Linked DNA regions of Homo sapiens: region 1 is linked to region 2. A link means that fine-mapping ties the variant in region 2 to the expression of a gene that starts in the linked region. Tissue or cell type: blood mononuclear cells. Region 2 holds a variant in brackets; the other region holds the start of a gene. All regions are shown on one strand. Distances are from middle to middle.

Region 1 (11,813 bases), 70 kb after region 2:
GAGGGTTTTGAGAATACAATGAAGAACGCTGTCAGTGTTGTTCACCACTATATCCCCAGTTCATTAAACAATGTCTGGCACTGTTTGAAAACATTAAATGAATGAATTTACTATTTATGCTAAGTTACTGGGTAGGTCTTACCATTCCTAGTTAACATTTGAGGCCTCCAGGCATTAAATAACATGCCCAAGGCCACAGTCTAGCAAGCGGTGAAAACATTTGAACCCTGTTCTGATTCCACAGCCTATAATAATAACTATTACATCCACTAAAACAGTTAATGTGTAGTAAACACTATGATCCACGTTTCAGAGTTAGGCTTCAAACTTTCTCAACAAATCCTTTTGTTTTCATAAATCCTGTCAAATATAGATACCTTGGTGGACTCCATTCAATCCTTAAAAAGATAAGATTTTTGAACTCAGCAGGGTCAAAAGAAGTTAAGCAGTGTATTACAGAATGTTGTCTTGTGGAAGCTTCTTTTGTTTTTTCTGGAATACCGATAAAGAAAGTGGGCTAGGAAGATTATAAAGGTGAGTTGGGGCCTTAAACAATGGGCAATCATATACCAGGCAGAGAAGGGGGAATGAGAGAAATCTCAGGCAGAGAGAAGAAAATAAAGGGATCAATGTACATGGCTGTGGCCTAGTCAGGGAATATGGCATGTTGGGAGTTTGGAAAGGTGACAAAAGGCTTAGAATGCTACAAAGATAGAAAGGGTATTTTATACCTTACTAAAGAATTCTTCCATTTTTTTCATTCTTTCAGACACTTTATTTCTGCAGAGAAGGATAACATCAAATTTAGAATATAAATCAGGAGAGAACACAAAAGATACAGATTTTATATATTTTAGAACATTTGACAGAAATGTAGTTGGAATTCCATTGTTTTTCTTATACCATAATCTTTCTGTTGTGATGCCCTAAAATTCACCCTGTGATTTCATATCATGTCTTCTTAATATTGTGCCAGAAACCATAACATGTCTGACAATTAAAATATTAAGGAAATGGGCTGGCCATGGTAGCTCATGCCTGTAATCTTAGCACTTTCAGAGGCAGAGGCAGGCAGATCACTAGAGGCCAGGAATTCAAGACCAGCCTGACCAAAATGGCAAAATCCCATCTCTACTAGAAAATACAAAAGTTAACCAGGTGTGGTGGCATGTGCCTGTAATCTCAGCTGCTTGGGAGGCTGAGGCACAAGAATCGCTTGAATCCAGGAAGCAGAGGCTGCAGTGAGCCGAGATCGCACCACTGCACTCCAGCCTTGGTGATAGAGCAAGATTCTGTCTCCAGAAAAAAAAAAAAAAAGCAATATTAATGAAATAAAAATGAAATGAACCCTCTTTGTTAACAGAGGAATTACTTAATGGAGTGAAATCCTGATTCCACTCAATGCAATAAACATTTGCTAAGCTACTATTCTTCTATGTGACTATTTTTTCTGTGATTGTAAATGTAAAAACTTAAAGACAGAATTAAAAAAATCATAGAATGTAAGAGTTAGAATGGCCCTTAAATCAGGTTACCAGTCCACCCACTCCTCTAACATTGGGTGATCATTCAGCATACACTTCATACCCATGGGCACAGAGGTTCCTCAAGAAGTTCACCAGCTAGTAAATGGGATACCACATTTTAAAGGGTTTTTTAACATGAACTTTCATATTCTGCAACATATGACCTTGTTAAAAGCTCTGTCCAGGATGCAGGCAAGATATCTGCATTTTAAGAATAAGAAAGTAAAGCTCCAGTAAGGCTCAAACTTGACAAGGATTACACGGTCAATTTACACCAAGGACGGAACTCTCTTGTAGCTTGCTGCTTCCCTTCTTGCTCTTGATAATTGTCCTAGTCCAACTGGGCTGCTATGACAAAAATACTATTGGCTTACTTAAAAAATAAGCATTGATTTCTTGCAGTTCCAGACACTGGAAGTCCTAGATCGAAGTGCTAGGAGATTTACTGTCTAGTGAGGACCCACTTTCCGGTTCCATGGACCACTGTTTTCTCACTGTGTCCTCACATGGTGGAAGGGGCAAGGAAGGTCTTCCAGGTCACTTTTATACAAGCACTAATCCCATTCATGAAGGCTCCACAGGAAGAAAGAAGATGGGGGTAGAAGGAGGAAGACAAGAGGGAGAAGGAGGTGCGTAAAGAGAAAATAACTGAAGACTTTTAAAAGGAAATAGGATTACTAGACAAGTATAAGAGAATTAGTAATGGTTAAATACTGTATCTCCTTGTTCTCACACTACATTCTACTCTCAGTCTATACCCTTATACTACTGAGTCCTAGGAGAACTTAATGTGAATTTTCTCTAATTTTTAACTTTAATTTTTCACTAATTTCATAGTGAGGAGATTTGGAACATACAGAAAAGAAAGGTCATACCAGAAAAAAAAATGTAGCGCTTTCACTTCCAATTGGTTCTTAATTTTGTCTCAGGACTTGCCTTGAATTCTTTTCTCTTCCCTGGATAATTCTGGAACACTTAGTAATGGTTAGCTATTATATTCCTTATACCTATTTCTACATTCTACTCTTATTTCTACATTCTTTCCATCTAAAATCTAAAGAAACTTAAACAGAAATTTGTTCTCTTCTAAATGCTCAATTCATTACAAATGCTTGGAAACACGGAGATGAGATCAAATCAGATGAAAATTTATAGAGATTTTGCTTCAAGCTGAGTATTTGGCTTAGATACAAACTACTACCTTGAAACTTTCCACCGAAGAGTCACCCCACAGTTCTCATTTCTATGCTCAAGTAGCCAATGTCCTCACTCCTTGACATTACATAAACCCCTGACATGCCTCTGAAATTTTCTCCCATAAAGGTTGACTGTGTAATCCTAATTCTATCCCATGTGTGATGGTTAATTTTATGTATCAACTCGTCTGGACTAAGGGATGCCCAGATAACTGGTAAAACATGATTTCTGGGTGTGTCTGTGAGGATGTCTCTGGAGGAGGGTAGCATTTGAATCAGTAAACCAATTAAAGAAGACTGCCCTCACCAAATGGGTAGGCATAATGCAATCCTGTGGAGGATGTGAATAGAACCAAAAGGCAAAGCAAGTGCTACGTTTTGTTTGTCCCCACAAAAACTCATGTTGAAGTCTGATCCCTGATGTGGCCGTGTTGGGAGGAGGGACCTAGCAGGAGGTGTCAGGGTTACGGAGGCAGATCCCTCATGAATGGCTTGGTGTCATTCTTGCAGTAGTGAGTGAGTTCTCTCTCTCATGAGACTGAATTAGTTCCCTCAGTAATGGATCAGTTCCCTCGAGGCTGGGTTGCTATAAAGCCAGGACACCCCTCGGATTTTGCTTCTTCACACATGTCCACTTCCACTTTGACTTTCCACCATGTTGTGACACAGCAGGAAAGCCCTCCCCAGGAGTCCAGCAGATGCCAGCACCACGCTTCTTAAACTTCCCAGCCTGCGGAACTGTGAGCTAAATAAATGTCTTTTCTTTATAAATTACCCTGTCTCAGATATTCCACTATAGCAACACTAAATGGACTAAGACAGGAAATGAAAAGGAATTTCACCTGCAGAATAGGAGACTTTACAAAGACTGATACCCTGAATGAGCGAGGATGTGGAGAAGCAAGCACTGTCAGTCAAAAGAGTGAAAATGGGTCTAAGGTTTCCGAAAGGCAATACGTATCCCAGTTTAAAATGTGTGTTACCTTCAGACTCAGCAATGTCCACTCCTCAAAATTTATCTTACGAAAGTAACTGGACCAGAATGAGAAAATGAATACAAAGGACATCCATTGCAATTTCACTTACAATCGTTTTTAAACTATCAATAAAGTAAAAGGTGATTTAAAAAGAATTGGTAACATATACTATGACACAAACATATAACAGAATATGATGCAGTTACGTAAAAATGGTGATACAGCAGCAATTCTCAAGCTTTTTGATCTCAGGATCCCTTTACAATCTTAAAAATCATTGAGCACTCCAAAGAGCTTTTGTATATTGTAGGGACCATGGAGTTGTACCACTGAGATCTCCCTTCAAAGGCACCTACTGTGAGGAACACAGTTGACTTCCACTCTCTAGCCTCTAACCCTGGCATCTGCTGATGCACTGCAGCAAGGTCGTCCCTTTCCTGGGCTGCTTCCAGCCAATGATTGGACATGGTGGGGAACTCCAACTGGGCCATTTCTGGGACAATCAGCACAAAGTACCAAAAGTTGGTTCCTTCAAAGTATGAATAAAATACACAAAACTTTGGCAAGATTGAAGGGGAGAAAAGGATAGATATGAGGAATGAAATAGAGAACCTACCTACAGATTCAGTCAGAAGTGTTATAAAATCATCGGTGAGTATTATGAACCTTGGACAGAACAGGCAGTTTCAAAAAAAATTGTAACTTACTAAATCTGACTCTAGAAGAAACAGTAAACTGAAGAGGCCTATAACTACCAAAGACATTAAAAGAGAAGTGAAATATAACTATATAACAGTTGTTGGCCCTCATAGTAACCTAATCACTTTCCCTCTTTGGATAAGAGAATGCCAGTGTCAGGGAACGCTTCAACAGGGTTGGAGAAGTTCCACATATCTCCACCCTACTAAAGGGGCAGAAGTTCAGGGGCACAGTTAAGATGACTCAGAGAAAATGAAATTGCTCAGTCGCAGGTCAAGTCAACCCTTCAGATCAATTTATGTACCTAGGGCATTAACCTAGGAATGTCTTAAACAATGGAATGCCGCCATTCCTTCTCAACAGGAAGTGGGGGAAACACGCGATTGGTTTTCAAACAGTTTTCAAACAGTAGACAATACACATAGCTGCTGTAACAAAGCAGCTTCGAAAGAGATCGAATGTGTGCGCCTTTATACAAAACTTGGGACCCACTGAAGTCTGACAGCTAAAACGGATTACATGTCTGCAAGGTATTAAAACAGAAAACAAAGAACCTGGGATGGATTCAGGACAAAAGTGTCTTAAAAATTTAACAGTGCCCGTGGGCCAGAGTGTCCACAACACTCATTTTATCTGGACAAATACCAGTAGACTTTCGTATTATGACCCACTTCTGTTACCGGGGTCGCCGGTCGCGGCCCCACGCCCGAGTTTCTGAAGCCACCGGAGCGCTGGGCGCCACAGTTCCTCCTTCCTCTCCTGGCAACGCCTCAAGCCGCCGCCCTCCTCGGTCCTCGCAGTGTCCCCAGCGCCCGCAGCCCTCCCTACGCTCAGGCGGCGCCCCGGCGGCGACCCACCTCCTCGGCGTCCTGGCCCAGAGGGATGCCCAGGTTCCTGAGCCCCTCCTGCAGCTCGCCGATGTCCACCACTCCGTCCCCATTGCGGTCCAGTGCCTGGAAGAGGGTCTCGTAGCGCGTCGGCTGCTCCGCGTCCTGGCAGGCCGCGGTGGGCAGCACGAAGTCCCGCAGCCAGCGCAACATGGTCCCAGAGGCGCAGGCGGCCTGGCCGAGGAAGTCACGGGAGATCGAGGGCTGCGGGGCGAGACCGGGACCAGCGCGAGGCCGGGCTGGGCGGGGCGCGCGGCGCAACAGCGTTTGGGGCGCCGTCGGGGTTGCGGCTGCGGCGCGCAGGGCGCAGGGCGCAGGAGCGGAGACCCCACCCGAGCCCGCGCGGAGCGCAGGGTGTGGCCGTCCCGCCGCTGCTGGGGAGGAGCTCGCCGCGCTGGCCTCGGCGGCACTGGCCGGGCCCGCCTCCAGAGAGCCGGAAGTGAGGGAGCTGGGAGCTGGGTCTCGGGAGGTGCTGTGCGGACCCGGGGTCGACCTCTGCCCAGTTGCCAGTCCCGCTGTCAGCATGCGGGTCCGAGGAAGAGGCCCCCAGCAGGTCCAGGGCTGCAGCGTCAGCGCGTCGGTGGCTTGGGAGCGGGGTCTTGAAGACTGGTTACTCCACTTAAAGACCCTCTCGGGCCGGAGCCTTGGCGGTCAGCCCAGAGCTGCTTCTCTCTGCCTGGAAACTGGGCCATGGAGGGCATTGTCTCTCACGGATGTCTAATTTTTTCGTGGTTGCACACCTGGGATGGCGATTCTGCTTTAAAAAGCAGAGAGTTAAATCCTAAAGCATCTATTGGAGCAATTATAAAACAAAAAGGAGAAACTCCTGGATTTGTTGCAGAAAAGATCAACAGCCATCTGCGTGGGCAACGGGGAAAAGAAGGACTAGTTTGGTAGGCAGCTTAGCTAGGATTTGCCCGTGATTAAGCGTATAGAGTGTCTGCCAGCTGCACTTATCAGAAAAAACCACAGCGCCCTCCTCCTTCTCAAGATGGGTGCAGTTCCGAGGTTTGGAGCTTATTACTCAGGCAAGACAGAACTTATTACTGCCTAGCATGGAATAACGGAAGGAACATTGGACTTAACAGAGAAAGTACCTAATCCTTCAGGTGTGACATAGCGTCTCCGGGTAGTCTCTCATCAGTAAAATGAGAATATAAATATCTGCCTTCACAACAAAGTTGTATATTAGGTGTGAAAGGTCTTAATTCTCTAAGGCGCCAATCAAATGAGATATCATTAATTGTAATAATCCTGTTCATTCACAGCTGCGTAAGAGGAACTATTGTTGTACTGCTGTTTGCAGAAAAGAAGATACCTCTGTACTTGTAAATTAGGGTGTCTCACATCTTCTGAATCACTACACAGAAATCAGTTCCAACAACAGCCAGGAACTCAGACCCTGAACTTACCTCTCCTCATATCATTTTGTATGTTTAAGATATGTATGAATCTAGAATTTGTAAATTAAGGGCTGCCTGCTTAGTAAAATCATCTTGAAACTGATTTATCTTTTTATATTACTTCCAACTTCCAGTCTTATTAAGAATCATTGCCTTCCTTTGGAACTGCCTTCAAACTTCAAATTTTCTCTGTCCTTGAAAACCTCTTTTAATCTCTACTCTGAATACTCTGTACTTGAAGAGAGGTTGCTTGAACTAGTCATCTTACACTTACATGCTTTCATTTTACTTTTTATTTATTTCTTTTTTTTTTTTTTTTTTCTTTGAGACAGTCTAGCTCTGTCGCCCAGGCTGGAATGCAGTGGCACAATCTCAACTCACTGCAACCTCCGCCTCCTGGGTTCAAGCTATTCTCCTGCCTCAGCCTCCTGAGTAGCTGGGGCTACAGGCTATTTTACTTTTTTAAAAAAGTAATACTTAGAAAAATTACCTGTCAGCGTTTTTGCTGAGAAAATTATCTTCACACCAAAACTTTTACTTGAGGGTTTATAGCAGTTCTATTCATAACTGTCAAGCGCAGAAACAAAATGTTCTTTAACGGGTGAACTGGTAAACAACCTGTGTTGCATTCATACAGTGAGATAGTAATTAGCAATAAAAAGGAATGAATTACTGATACCTGTCAACAATGACATTCTGGAAAAGGCAAAACTATAGGGACAGAAAACAAATCAGTAGTTACCAGTTGTGACTAGCGGGAAGGGAATTGATGACAAAAGAGCATCAGAAGGCTTGTGGGGGTGATGGAGCTATTTTACATCTTGCTTTTGGTGGTAGTGGTTACACAACTGCATGTGTGTGCCAGCAGAACTGCACACTAACATGGGTTAATTTACTCTGGGATATCAATAAATCTGACTTAAGCATGAGTAAAATGGAATAAAAATTCTCAAAAGATCAGTGTGAACATCAAAACAGTTTATGAATAGTTATGAAGTATGGGCCACACACCAGCAGCATTGGTGTCACATCAGTGTTACTGTGAAAATCAAAGCGTTTATGAAGTGTGGGCCACAGACCAGCAGCATCAGTGTCACTTGGGAGCTTGTCAGAAATAATCTCAGGCCTGCCCAAGCCCACTAAGTAAGAATTGCACTTATACAAGAACCCTGGATGAGCATTTCATAAAGTTTGAAAAGCACAGCTAGTATGAAGCAAACCACTCGAAGTGCAACCTGTTACCTGTCTGCAATGAGTCAGACATTGAGAGGAAGGATTTAGAAACTTTATAGCAATTTGATAAAGTAATTTTGTTATATCTAATAATAAAACTCAGAGCTTGTCTTTTTAATTTCAATTTTCTAGTATTGCATTTTTACTGTATTTTACGACACTATGTCTGCAAGGAATCGAGATAACACCATGAAGATAAAAGGTGTAATTAACACTAGCAACTTCCTGCATAAGAGAAGAAACCTTTACATGGACATTTACACATCTGGACGAAAGAAGGCACCCCTGCTTAATTCTACTGGCAATTCCCAAAGACCAGTGGTTCCTAGAGGGCAGTAGTAGAAACCCAGAATTCACACTTCCTTAATTCATTTCCTTGGTCAGAACAGAAGTCTAGGGTTCAGCCCAATTTAGCTACTTCTATTGTCCCCAACTTCTGGCCTTCTAATGTACTACCATTTTCCACTGGAATAACCTTCAGACTTGACCAGTTTCAGTCCTTGAAGACCTCTTTCAGCACCTACTTTGGAATCTTTTCATAATCATTCTGGATTTGGCTAGTTTTAGTTGATAAACACATTTCTTCTTTCTATCCACTGAATCACTTACTTATTGTGTAGTGCTAATAAGACCAAAGAATCTGCCTCTCCACAAGGAACAATTCTATTTCAAAATCCTTCAAGAATATTCAGAAAGGAAAAAAAGATCCTGGTCATTGCTCCCTCAAATTTGAGTAATCACAGCTTAGGCTCTGTAAGAGAATTTGATTGGTTCAGTGTAAAGCCATAACCATTACTGGAAGGATAATTTTTTTTCATTGTACTTTAAGTTCTGGGATACATGTGCAGAATGTGCAGGTTTGTTACATAGGTATAAATGTGCCATGGTGGTTTGCTGCACCCATCAACCCATCACCTACATTAGGTATGTCTCCTAATGCTATCCCTCCCCTCCCCACTCCCTCCCCTCCCCACCCCCAACAGGCCCCGGCATGTGATGTTCTCCTCCCTGTGTCCATGTGTTCTCATTGTTCAACTCCCACTTATGACTGAGAACATGCGGTGTTTGGTTTTCTGTTCCTGTGTTAGTTTGCTGAGAATGATGGCTTTCAGCATCATCCATGTCACTACAAAGGACATGAACTCATCCTTTTTTATGGCTGCATACTATTCCATGGTATATATGTGCCACATTTTCTTTATCCATTCTATCACTGATGGGCATTTGGGTTGGGTCCAAGTCTTTGCTGTTGTGAATAGTGGTGCAATAAACGTGCATGTGAATGATTTATAATCCTTTGGATATATACACCCAGTAATGGGATTGCTGGGTCAAATGGTATTTCTGGTTCTAGATCCTTGAGGAATCACCACACTGTCTTCCACAACGGTTGAACTAATTTACATTCCCACCACCAGTGTAAAAGCGTTCCTATTTCTCCACATCCTCTCCAGCATCTGTTGTTTCCTGACTTTTTAATGTTCACCAATCTGAGTGGTGTGAGATGGTATCTCATTGTGGTTTTGATTTGCATTTCTCTAATGAACAGTGATGATGAGATTTTCTTCGTATGTTTCTTGGTTGCATAAATGTCTTCTTTTGAGAAGTATCTATTCATATCCTTTGCCCAGTTTTTGATGGGGTTGTTTGTTTTTTTCTTGTAGATTTGTTTAAGTTCCTTGTAGATTCTGGATATTAGCCCTTTGTCAGATGGATAGATTGTAAAAATTTTCTCCCATTCTGTATGTTGCCTGGTCACTCTGATGATAGTTTCTTTTTCTGTGCAGAAGCTCTTTAGTTTAATTAGATCCCATTTGTCAATTTTGGCTTGTGTCACAATTGCTTTTGGTGTTTTAGTCATGAAGCCTTTGCCCATGCCTATGTCCTGAATGGTATTGCCTAGGTTTTCTTCTAGGGTTTTTATGGTTTTAGGTCTTATGTTTAAGTCTTTAATCCATCTTGAATTAATTTTTGTATAAGGTGTAAGGAAGGGGTCCTGTTTCAGTTTTCTGCATATGGCTAGCCAGTTTTCCCAACACCATCTATTAAATGGGGAATCCTTTCCCCATTGCTTGTTTTTATCAGGCTTGTCAAAGCTCAGATGGTTGTAGATGTGTGGCATTATTTCTGTGGACTCTGTTCTGTTCCATTGGTCTATATCTCTGTTTTGGTACCAGTGCCATGCTGTTTTGGTTACTGTAGCCTTGTAGTGTAGTTAAAAGTCAGGTAAAGTGATGCCTCCAGCTTTTCTCTTTTTACTTAAGATTTTCTTGGCTATACGGGCTCTTTTTTGGTTCCATATCAAATTTAAAATAGTTTTTTCTAATTCTGTGAAGAAAGTCAATGGTAGCTTGATGGGATTAGCATTGAATCTATAAATTACTTTGGGCAGTATGGCCATTTTCATGATATTGATTCTTCCTATCCATGAGCATGGAATGTTTTTCCATTTGTTTGTGTTGTCTCTTATTTCCTTGGCATTGGTGTAATTCTCCTTGAAGATATCTTTCACATCCCTTGTAAGTTGTATTCCTAGGTTTTTTATTCTGTTGGTAGCAGTTGTGAATGGGAGTTCACTCATGATTTGTCTCTCTGTTTCTTATTGGTGTATAGAAATGCTAGTGATTTTTGCACATTGATTTTGTACCCTGAGACTTTGCTTGAAGTTGCTTATCAGCTTAAGGAGTTTTTGGGCTGAGACAATGGGGTTTTCTAAATATACAATCATGTCATCTGCAAACAGAGATAATTTGACTTCCCCTCTTCCTATTTGAATATCCTTTATTTCTTTCTTTTGCCTGATTGCCCTGGCCAGAACTTCCAATACTATGTTGAATAGGAGTGGTGAGAAAGGGCATCCTTGTCTTGTGCCAGTTGTCAAAGGGAATGCTTTCAGCTTTTGCCCATTCAGTATGATATTGGCTGTGGGTTTCTCATAAATAGCTCTTATTATTTTGAGATACGTTTCATCAGTACCTAGTTTATTGAGAGTTTTTAGCATGAATCGGCTGTTGAATTTTATCAAAGGCCTTTTCTGCATCTATTGAAATAATCATGTGGCTTTTGTCATTGGTTCTGTTTATGTGATGAATTACGTTTATTGATTTCTGTATGTGGAACCAGCCTTGCATCCCAGGGATGAAGCCAACTTGATCATGGTGGATAAGCTTTTTGATTTGCTGCTGGATTCAGTTTGCCAATATTTTATTGAGGATTTTTTCATCGAAGTTCATCAGGGATATTGACCTGAAATTTTCTTTCTGTGTTGTGTCTCTGCCAGGTTTTGGTATCAGTATGATGCTGGCCTCATAAAATGAGTTAGAGAAGAGTCTCTTTTTTTCCATTGTTTGGAATAGTTTCTGAAGGAATGGTACCAGTTCCTCCTTCTACCTCTGGTAGAGTTTGGCTGTGAATCCATCTGGTTCTGTGCTATTTTTTTTTTTTAGTTTGTAGGCTATTAATTATTGCCTCAATTTCAGAACTTGTTATTGGTAGTATTCAGGGAATCGACTTCTTCCTGGCTTAGTCTTGGGAGAGAGTATGTGTCCAGGAATTTACCCATTTCTTCTAGATTTTCTAGTTTATTTGCATAGAGGTGTTTATAGTATTCTCTTAAGGTAGTTTGTATTTCTGTGGGATCAGTGGTAATGTCCCCTTTATCATTTTTATTGTGTCTATTTGATCCTTCTCTCTTTTCTTCTTTTTTAGTCTGGCTAGCAGTCTATTTTGTTAATCTTCTCAAAAAACCAGCTCCTGGATTCATTGATTTTTTTAAGGGTTTTTCGTGTCTCTATCTCCTTCAGTCCTGCTCTGATCTTAGTTATTTCTTGTCTTCTGTTAGCGTTTGAATTTTTTTGCTGTTGCTTCTCTGGTTTTTTTAATTGTGAAGTTA
Region 2 (11,594 bases):
AAAAATAACTCTTGTAAAAAAAGAAATCCCTAAAAGGGAATGGAGTCAGAAATTTTGTGGTGCGTTTTATTACTTGTTTATTTTTGCTCTCATTTTACCACTCTTGTATTTCAAGCTTGAATTATGATTATACTTCTGAAATAATTTTAAGCAAACAAAAATATTCATCACACTATGAAAACAAATATCCAAAAATATGCTCTATGGTCACAATTTTTGTATCTGAACATTTACCTACGACTCTGTATATGAACAGTGATACTTGTTTTTCAATCATTTCTTATTTGACTTGTAAAACAGAATTTTTCTATTTTTGGAAAATATCTTAAAAATTAAGAACAAGCCCTTCTCCTCAGTGCTACACATAAAGGACCTTATTTGTCACCTTCTGTCCTGGAATGACAGGACAGGTCGACCCTAATTTCACTCCTCTAAACAAGGTAATGATGGCTTGTGCAGGAAATCTAAATCTGGCCTCAGAGGCAGCCCAGTGATTTTCCAGGTCAAGGGAAAGGGAGAAAGCAAAGATCTGAAGCTCTGTCCTCCTCTCCTGGGTATCTGCCGTCCACAGAGCTGGGGGAAGTCTGCCATCTAGTGGAAAGTAGAGGGCACTGACAGTTACTTGCAATAGTGGTTTCCCAGGACCGCTTGAGCATCAAGCGTTTCTGATCCGGGGGCATAGCTTCCATCAGGGACAGGGTGGACTAGCAGAAGAATATTCAACAACAACAAGTAACATTCAAACCCAATACACAAATGTTTCTTTATATATATAAACTACACATAGTGCCCTATACAAAGTGCTTCTTCATAAAGTAGTGCCAGGTGAAGTGCTAAGTGTTTTAGTTAATAAATCTCATCTCATTTCTACAGTGATTATCAATGTATTCTGCATGATTTTTCCTATACAATGGCAAAAACACAGGGTGGGAAGTATACTTAATCCCTAACACAGTGATTACCATTATACTTTTAAAATTGCTGTACAGAGAATATTTTCCATCGGTTCAGATCCATACAATAATCGATTTCAGTTTATGCTTGTCTTTTGACAACAATTGACATATTCAGGTAACAACATTAAGGGGGCTGGGGGACAGACCAAGTTACTCAGATATATTTGTGCTCTCTCCTTTTGATTTCATTTGATTTCATTTGTTACACTGTTCCAATTTGCTTTAAGTGATTGTTTTTAATTATATTAAAGTAGCACATGCCATGCATATATTTAAAAGCATGGTCTCCTCTTCCGCCCCTTCCCACCTCTAGTCTTGGTCCCTAGAGGTAATGACCTGCAGTTCTGTTAGTTGCTTCTTTTCGTATTTTCCTCCATAATCTCTAAATAAAACGCTCTGCTTCTATTTCCTTGTCTGTCTGTGGTGGATTGACTGCCTTAGTTTGGGTTCTTTCAGAGGCAGATCCTGAAATGGATGATTCAAGGACAGGATGGGAAAGTAAGATGAGGAGAAGGCCATCAGTAAAGGGCAAATCATCACACCAGCTGCCACCATAGGCACCTGCACCAGACCCAGTGTAGAAATGGGAGCCAGTGCGAAACAGAGCTCACGACCACTGGTTTAGAGCTGCTCCTGTCACATGGGCAGCAAGTAAGCTCCAGCACCAAGAGCAACACCAAAGCAGATGCTGGCAATTGCACACAGAGCTGCCTTGTGCAGCCGTGGTCAGGGCCAGGTGTGTGGGCAGGGAACTGCCAGTGTCTGCTACAGCCATCTCACCTGTCGGGTACCCAGGTAAGCAAGAGCCTTGCACACCCCCACCTTCCTCATCCTTCCCTTTTCACCCCACCTCCTCTCTCCTACTGCTCAGCTTCTGATTACATTTGCTTCCTTGTTTACATTCTTCTATAGCTATATTTAGGCCTACAGTTTGATTTTGAAAGCACATTGATGATGTGACTTTGCAGTATTTTTCACTGCCGAGCTAGTGTTCACTATAATTACATTTCTTTTTTTTTTTTTTTGAGACAGGGTCTCGCTCTGTTGCCCAGGCTGGAGTGCAGTGGCACAATCACAGCTCACTGCAGCCTGACCTCCCAGGCTCAAGCAATCCTCCCACCTTAGCTGCTCTCCCCTCAATAGCTGGGACTACAAGCACAGGCCACCATGCCCAGCTAATTTTTATATTTTTCGTACAGATGGGGTTTTGCTACGTTACCAAGGCTGGTCTCAAACTCCTAGCCTCAAGCGATCTGCCCACTTCAGCTTCTCAAAGTGCTGGGATTATATAGGCATGAGCCGCCACACCCAGCCACATTTCGTTTATATTAGAGCTTTTTAATTTTTCCTGAAGTTATTAACTGCCTTTTAATTTTCTTGCACCTTTTGCCCTTGTTTCACATTAGTGTTTTTCCTTGACCTCTTCTGCCAATTAGGGATCAAGTGTTCCATGGAGACTCTTTCTTTTTTTATTATTATTATTTTTTTTTTTTTAATTTTTTTTAAGTGGAGTCTCACTCTGTCACCCAGGCTGGCATGCAGTGGCGCAATCTCAGCTCACTGCAACCTCCACCTCCTGGGTTCAAGCGACTCTCGTGCCTCAGCCTCCCAAGTAGCTGGGATTCCAGGCATGTGCCACCACACCCAGCTAATTTTTGTGTTTTTATTAGAGATGGGGTTTCACCATGTTGGCCAGGATGGTCTCCATCTCCTGACCTTGTGATCCGCCCACCTCAGCCTCCCAAAGTGCTGGGATTACAGGTGTGAGCCACAGTGCCCAGCCCCATGGAGACCCTTTCTATGTAGAGTTTCTCTGCAGGGCCTTGTCTCATACTGTGGAATGTTCCTACAAGGGAATACTACTCTGCAAAACAAAGAATAAATTATTGAGACATGCAACAACACAGATAACTCTGATTGACTTTGCAGAGTGAAAAGCTAGACATTTACATAAAATTCTATGAAATACAAATGAATCTACAGTGATAGAAAGAAAGAAATCAGGCTGGGTGCGGTGGCTCACGCCTGTAATCCCAGCACTTTGGGAGGCCGAGGTGGACAGATCACGAGGTCAGGAGTTCGAGAGCAGCCTGGCCAATATGGTGAAACCCTGTCTCTACCAAAAATACAAAAATTAGCCAGGCATGGTGGCACGCTCCTGTAGTCCCAGCTACTCAGGAGGCTGAGACAGAAGAATCACTTGAACCCAGGAGGCTGAGGTTGCAGTGAGCCGAGATCACACCACTGCACTCCAGCCTGGGCAACAGGGCGAGATTCCGTCTCAAAAAAAAAAAAGAAAGAAAGCAATCAGTGGTTTCTTGATGTACTCAGAAACTGGTATGTTCACCATCTTTTGTTCATGGGTATGTACATATGTCAAAGCTTATGAAATTATATAATTTAAACATGTGCAGTTTATTGTGATTAATTATAATAAATCCAGTTACACTCAATAAAGTGTTGATGATGTCAATGGTACCATGAATAAAATAGAAAGATTATTAGTTAATGCTATGTGAATAAAATAGAAAGAACATTGTTGAACAAACCATTTGACCAATGAATGTTTCTCACTGCCTTATAAAAAGAGTAAGTGAATTATTAAGGCTTAGCAAAGTAAAGAAAGTCTCCCACAGTCTCTGATTGGAATTCCATAAAACAATAGTCGTACATTTTTACTAGACAAAGAAAACATACATATAAAATAGCTAACTTTTCAAACTCCAGCAAAAGTCTCCATTCATTTACTTTTTGTTCGCCTTAATATAGCTTTATTACCTTATAGAACATTTCCCTATATCTTAAGGGGGAACATCTTTACAAAGAGTAAAGCAGGAAGGGAATAAAATCAGGACAAAAACAAAGATCACTAAAGGATGAGCTTTAAACCATGTTCCTCATCTTCTGGTAGAATTCCACCAGATTCTTCTACTTAGAAACTCAAGCACCCAACTCATCAATTTCACCTCTAATTCTACACTTGCAACTTTATCAGCCATGTCTTCTGAGAGCTTGCACTCATATTCACCAACACATCCAAAACCAAAACAGATTTAGAAACAGCTCTAGACTCCTTGCAGAGAGGGAGTCTCACCTTATCATTCTTTTCAGCATTCCAAGTAATTGTACCCTCTCCCATCCTTCCCATCTCCTCCCCAGGCCATTGAAAAGGGTTGAATTTTAAGTACATAGTTGACCCTTCAACCTGGACACCGTTTATTGAACTGTCTGGTTGTGAAACTGCATTGCCACATATCAATATAGTTGTGGGAACTTGGAGATTCAATAGGTATAACAATCTGTTTATGTTAAAACAAACAAAACAGCCATCTCCTTTTATGTGCAGAGCCTACTGCTGTAAGGCACAAGGCTTACTCCTGAGACAGAGTACCAGGAGACAGGAGGCAATTTGAGAGGCTATAGCAAGATAACTGAGTAAAATACTAACTTGTATTTATGTCCCTATATTTTCCCTTTTTTCTCATTTCAGAGCAGGAGTCAGGCCTTTAGCATTTCCTTCCCTTGGTGATTTTTTAAAGTAGAAATCAGAAGTCACTTTCAATCAAAGTCTTTTCTGTCTTTTGCAAACACTGAAGCTACCTGCAGAGAGGATGACAGGGGCCTCAGAGGGAAGAGGAGAGGGATAATTTTAAGAGCAAAGAGAAAAAGAGGTGGGTCGGAGGTTTGGAAGAAGACAAAGGTTAGTGGGTCCCAAGGCTAAGGGAGATCCACATTCTACTCATCACCATTTCAGAATGGAAAGGCCGGACCCCAGACACAGACACTCCATGTCTTCCCAACTCCTCCCATCCCAAGCATGGCACAACTGCTGGAACCAAGGGACCATGCAGGCTAGAACAAAGGGCGCCTCAGCTGTGAGTGGTGTAGACCATGGCCAGTGTCCAAAGGGGCCAACATCCTAGATCATTGGCACAACACTGAGTGGTTAAGGAGCTGGACTTAAGTTGATTTAAATTAAAAAAGAAAAAACCACATTTTTACCATCCCATTTGCTGCAGTAAGATTGATGTGGGGACCCCCTGCAGTACAGCAAAGACTGGCTGGGTGACACATAGCTACAGAAGGCACTGATTACAGGTGCTGGGATTCAGGCCACTTCATCCTGAGCCCGTGGCTGAGATTGTGTGGTAGAATCGGTGTAATCAGATGAGTGTAAACTCATGCTGACTAGGGAAAACTGGGAGTCTATAATAAGCTTAGGTTCGAAGCGTACTTTAGAAAGCTTTAAAATCCCTGGACAAACCAGCCTCTCTTTCTGGAGTAACAAAATACAAATCACTTGTTTGTTATGGTTATCTTGACTTTGTGGAAGTGAATTTAAAACAGGACATTATCAATGAACACAAAACAAAAAATCAAATAAAAGGATTGTTTCCAACATTGTCAAACTTGTGTAAATTAAAAACAAATAAACAAACCAACCAACCCTGGGCAGATACAAAGTGATCAGAGAAGGAAGTGAGGACAGTGGGAGCCTTGTTAGTTTGCTAAGATTAAAATCCTCTGTAATTCTCAGAAAATATCTAGAAAGATTTTAAGGTTTCTAAGTTAATTCTCTTTTTAAAAATTACAATTCTCCCTGGAGGAGGAGAGGCACAGAGAAGCCAATAGACATGCTACCTGGAGAATGGGCCCACGTGTCCAGGTAGCAGTAAGCTATTCTGTCTGTGATGGACATAACAGTTCCCAGAAACTGAGGTATTTTCCATCATTTCCAGTGATACTACCCCAAGTGTCCCCCACCCCCCGAGGAGAGACATTTGAATCTTATTTAGGGAATACCCCCAAGAAACTGCTGCTATTGCAGAACTAGAAAGCAAGAAATGGAGAAATGAATGATGATGTGGCTCCCTCAGAGTCCCCTCTGCTTCCTGGATTGCTGCCTCCCTGGGCTTCCTCTCCTGCAGCCACACGGGCCTCCTGCAGGTTCCTCCCTCCTGTGGCCACTGCATCTGCTTCCCTCTGCTGCCTGGATGCTCTTTCCAGACTCAGTATAGAGCATTCCTGCACCACCTTCAAACAGCACCTCCTCAATAAGGCCTTCTCTATCAATCTCTGTACAACTGCAGCCCTGGCCACAGCCCCAGCTCTCCCTTCTGCACTTAGCACCATCTGACACACTACATGTTTTACTTAATAGTTTATCATCTGTCTCTCCCCACTAGACAAGAAGTACTGAGTCTTTTGTTCAATGTTGTGACCTCAGCCCACATTGGCTGCTGTATTAGTCCATTTTCACACTGCTGATAAAGACATACCTGAGACTGGGAAGAAAAAGAGGTTTCAATGGACTTACAGTTCCACATGGCAGGGGAGGCCTCAAAATCATGGAGGGAGGCAAAAGGCACTTCTTACATGGCAGCGGCAAGATAAAATGAGGAAGAATCAAAAGTGGAAACCCCTGATAAACCCATCAGATCTTGTGAGACTTATTCACTATCACAAGAAAAGCATGGGAAAGACCTGCCTCCATGATTCAATTATCTCCCCCTGGGTACCTCCCACAACATGTGGGAATTCTGGGAGATATAATTCCAGTTGAGATTTTGGTGGGGACACAGCCAAACCATATCATTCCACCCCTGGCCCTCCAAATCTCATGTCCTCACATTTCAAAACCAATCATGCCTCCACCAGTTCCCCAAAGTCTTAACTCATTTCATCATTAACCCCAAAAGTCCACAGTCCAAAGTCTCATCTGAGACAAAGGAAGTCCCTTCCACCTATGAGCCTGTAAAATCAAAAGCAAGCAGTTACTTCCTAGATACAGTGGGGATACAGTTATTGGGTAAATACAGCCATTCCCAGTGGGAGAAATTGGCCAAAACAAAGGGGTTACAGGGCCCATGCAAGTCCGAAATCCAGCAGGGCAGTCAAATTTTACAGTTCCAAAATGATTTCCTTTGACTCCAGGTCTCACATCCAGGTCATGCTGATGCAAGAGGTGGGTTCCCTTGATCTTGGGCAGCTCTGCCCCTGTGGCTTTGCAGGGTACAGCTTTTCTTCCGGCTGCTTTCATGGGCTCGTGTTGAGTGTCTGCAGCTTTTCCAGGCACACAGTACAAGCCGTCTGTGGATCTACCATTCTGGGGTCTGGAGGATGGTGGCCCTCTTCTCACAGCTCCACTGCGCAGTGTCCTAGTAGGGACACTGTATAGGGGCTCCAACCCCACGTTTCCCTTCTGCACTGCCCTAGCAGAGGTTCTCCATGAGGGCCCAGCCCCTGCAGCAAACTGTTGCCTGGGCATCCAGGCGTTTCCATACATCTTCTGAAATCTAGGTGAAGGTTCCCAAACCTCAGTGCTTGACCTCTTTACACCCACAGGCTCAACACCACATGGAAGCTGCCAAGGCTTGGGATTCCACCCTCTGAAGCCACAGCCTGAGCTGTACATTGACTCTTTTCAGCCACGGCTGGGACACAGGGCACCAAGTCCCTAGGCTGCACACAGCATGGGGACCCTGGGCCTGGCCCACAAAACCACTTTTTCCTCCTGGGCCTCTGGGCCTGTGATGGGAGGGGCTGCCATAAAGTCTCTGACATGGCCTGGAGACATTTTCTCCACGGTCTTGGGGATTAACATTAACAGCTCCTTGCTACTTAAGCAAATTTCTACAGCCAGGTTGAATTTCTCCCCAGAAAATGGATTTTTCCTTTCTGTTGCATAGTCAGGCTGCAAATTTTCCAAACTTTTATGCTGTGCTTCCCTTATAAAACTGAATGCCTTTAACAGTACCCAAGTCACCTCTTGAAGGCTTTGCTGCTTAGAAATTTCTTTT[G/A]CCAGATACCCTAAATTATCTCTCTCAAGTTCAAAGATCCACAAATCTCTAGGGCAGGGGCAAAACGCCCCCAGTCTCTTTGCTAAAACATAACAAGAGTCAACTTTGCTCCATTCCTAACAAGGTCCTCATCTCCATCCTAAATCACCTCAGCCTGGATTTTATTGTCCACATTGCTATCAGCATTTTGGGCTAAGCCATTCAACAACTCTCTAGGAAGTTCAGAACTTTCTCACGTTTTCTTGCCTTCTTCTGAGCCCTCCAATCTGTTCCAATCTCTGCCTGTTACCCAGTTCCAAAGTCACTTCCACATTTTCAGGTATCTTTTCAGCAACGCCCCACTTTACGGGTACCAATTTACTGTATTAGTCCATTTTCACATTGCTGATAAAGACATATCCAAGACTGCACAATTTACAAAAGAAGCCTCATAATCATGGCAGAAGGCAAGGAGGAGCAAGTCACATCTTACATGGATGGCAGCAGGCAAAGAGAGAGAGAGTTTGTGCAGGGAAACTCCTGTTTTTAAAACCATCAGATCTCATGAGACTCATTCACTATCATGAGAAGAGTGCAGGAAAGACCCACCCCCATAATTCATTCACCTCCCACCAGTTCCTTCCATGACATGTGGGAATTGTGGGAGTTACAATTCAAGATGGGATTTGGATGGGGATAAAGCCAAGCCATAACAGGTGCCTACTAAATGCACACTGCAAGAACAAATGAGTGAGTGAATGCTGGTGGAATAAATGCTGAAGTGGCCTGGGGTTAGTGGCTGTGGCTTAGTGTCTGGGTATAGGATTCTGGGGCCCACTGACAATCATCTTTGTTTACACTGTGGTCAGAAAGCTGGTCAGCTTGGACTTGAGCACAGTGGAAGGGGCTAGGCTGGGAGAACATCATAGGATGTGCTCTCCCAGAGAGTGGCCTAAATGACTTCAGACTGCTCCACATGTCTCCCAATGAGAGCATATGGCAAAGGAGGGTTGCTCCCTCCACAGTATTTTTACTCCTTTGGTGCTCTTTTCAAAAAAGGAAGTTCCATGAGAACAAAAGGGCTGGCAAAGTTCCTATTGGGGGATGAGGAAGCCATGCCACATTTTTACAAATGCAACATAATGCCAAGCTCAAAGACAAAATACTGTAAAGTACAATCTCTGCTTGCATAAATTTATTCTCTTGACTGGGAGACAAGACTAATAGGTGAGAAACAAATATGGCAGCATTTTTCTAACAAAGATTCCCTGAGAACAGAGGAGCAGATGCTGGCAATTGCACACAGAGCTGCCTTGTGCAGCTGTGGACAGGGACAGGTGTGTGGGCAGGGAACTGCCAGTGTCTGCTACAGCCATCTCACCTGTCAGGTATCCAGGTAAGCAAGAAGCTTACAGAAATAACTGATAAGTTATTTCTGAAGTCTGGATAGTATTGGAGTTGAAATGCAGAATTTCTCTGCAGTCTTATGTTTTAATTTTTAAATCAAATTTTGGATGTAATCTGCATTATGAAATTTTAAAAAATTACTTACCAGTGAATTCAACTTAGAATTTTTTCCCACAATTTCAAGACAAACTGATACTCCACGGCAAAATGAGCCTGGCCAATCCTGAGGCTCTGGGTCCCCCTTGGTACTGTGAACCCCAGGGCTGTAACTCTAATGGGTAAATGTGGAATTTTGATATCACAAAAAATATCACCTTGTGTCAAAATGCATCATACAGACAATATCTACAAGGGCTGCTCAGGAAAGGCCAAAATGTTTGGAAAGACTACATGGAGCCAGCTGTAAAAAGCATGATTCAAACTGGTGCCAAACATCTAAGCTAGCTAAGCTGTAGGATACAATTTTTGCTTTATTTATAATTTTTTTTTTTCAATTAGGAAACTGAGACTTAAGAATTTTCTCTAAAAAAAATAAAAACTGGAAAACAAGTAATTTTAGAAACAAATATATATTTTTGATAGAAACTGTAAGTAAATATTCAGTACTACCAGAAATATACTATCTTCAACTCTCGGCTTTTTTCCAAAAGATACAGAATCATTTTTTGGAAAAGATACAAGATGTACAGACAAATCACATTCATACCTTACAATTTAAATTCATAATGAACAATGAATATTTTCATATTTTCCAGAAGTTTGAAATTTCAAAGTTGTTAGCAAAATTATTCATTTCCATAATTTTTACGAGTAAAAATAGAAAGAGCTGATCATGTACCTTAATATTGTCACTTTATATATTACTCAAAAGTACAAATAACCCTAAAAGTAGAATCCCAGGCTTATCATATTATAAAAATACTGAGACATTTATCAAACATAACTAATATAAATGAAACTACATTTTTAAAAATGTTTCACAAACACCAGTCCATCTTTCTCTTTGGTTCAGAAAATAAAAGAGGTAGGTTCAAATAAAGAAAATGCCTATTACATCATTAGATTTTCATTAAAATGCTGGAAATTTATAACAGAAATTATTAGAAGTGAAATGAGTTTAAGAACTAAATTAAAAACTGATAATAACTTCAACTAGTAAATATTTTTCTAAGTTCTAATCACACAAATAAGAAAAGATAGTTGACTATAAAAATGGCTTTAGTAAAATAAAAAAATGCTCTCATTATTATAAATTAAGTCTCCTATATCCTAACATGTTCCTAAAACTTGGGGCAAGAGAGAATATGAATGTATATGTTTACAAATTGGGCCTTTCATTTAAATATAGGTATCTAATGTATAAGAGTAATACATACTACTATTAATATGTATCTCTCACCTTTGTGCTGCCCATATTGAAAACAGCAAGTTCAAAGATATTCAACAGTGAGGGAGAAATAAGCACATCATTTGCTCATGATCAATCCACTTCATGCAATTAAAAAAGAAATTTCAGGTTACTAAGAATGGTCCCAAGAAGTCTTCCTGACTAAAACGGAATCTGATTCAAAAGGTAGGAAACAAAGGACAAAGGAAAACAAAGATGCTCTGCAGAAGCTGATACAAGTCAAAGGATTTCGTTTCCTGCTGCTTTTCAAAGCAATGGCAGGATAAACGGAATCTTTCAAATAAATTGCCTTGTGTTGGTAATTTAACAGTAATATACTGAAAATTAGTGTATAACTCCAGGAACCAAATAATGGTACAGTGGTAAAATGGAAAAGTGCCCACTGAAATAAATATAATTTCATCACTTCCCTTCAGAAATTCCACCACTGTGTTCATTCGTATTCAGCTGAAAGAAAAATAAGGACATAAACCCTATACTTATTTGGATGCTTTTGCTGTAAGGTATATTTTAAATGTAATGATTTTCTATTAATGGTTCTATAAGGAAATTTAAAGAAATCTATAAAGACATTCAAAATATATAAAACAAGAAATTTAAATATAAAGGAACTGGCATAAACGTAAACCACCCGAAATAAAGATTAATGATTTATAACTCTAACACACAAAACAAATTTTGTTCAAGCCAGTACATTTTCAGATTTCGGATTCAGGGCAGAGATTTGCAGGATTATTAAGAAAAGATAAAGTATAATTGTGTGGCCTTTTCAAAACACATTAAAACTATGATTTTGAACATTTCTGTGTACATATAATTTAGCCCAAAAGTTTGAAGTGACCATTGTTACCATCTTCCCTTTTGTGAAAAAAATGCAGCTTCTTTTGCCATAGACTTGTTTCAATTCGAGGAGAAAAAGTCACTCCAGAGATTGTTGAAAGTTTCAATTATCAGGCTAAAGCAAAAAATGCAACATCATTTCTGGGTTACTCCTAAAGTTTGCTTCATATTTTCATAAACCACATAACTGATGCCTACAGCAGG

What was found. PIP is the estimated chance that this variant, and not a neighbour inherited with it, causes the effect. A credible set is the group of variants that fine-mapping cannot tell apart.
Region 1: it holds the start of SLC25A24, and the variant in region 2 is the best candidate, but not a certain one, in a credible set for the expression of SLC25A24 in blood mononuclear cells (TOPMed, PIP 0.53).

The regions. Positions count from the first base shown.
Region 1 is chr1:108,194,701-108,206,513 of GRCh38, forward strand. SLC25A24 (solute carrier family 25 member 24) reads right to left here and starts at 5,643. Exons shown (of 10, transcript NM_013386.5): 1 at 5,256-5,643. The coding sequence starts at 5,438. RefSeq lists a silencer at 5,427-5,766 and an enhancer at 5,567-5,861.
Region 2 is chr1:108,125,128-108,136,721 of GRCh38, forward strand. SLC25A24 (solute carrier family 25 member 24) reads right to left here. Exons shown (of 10, transcript NM_013386.5): 10 at 8,916-11,594. The coding sequence ends at 11,526. Among named protein-coding and RNA genes, the nearest start is that of LINC02785, 66 kb to the left of the region's middle. RefSeq lists a silencer at 603-742. The variant G/A (reference allele first, on the strand shown) is at 7,757.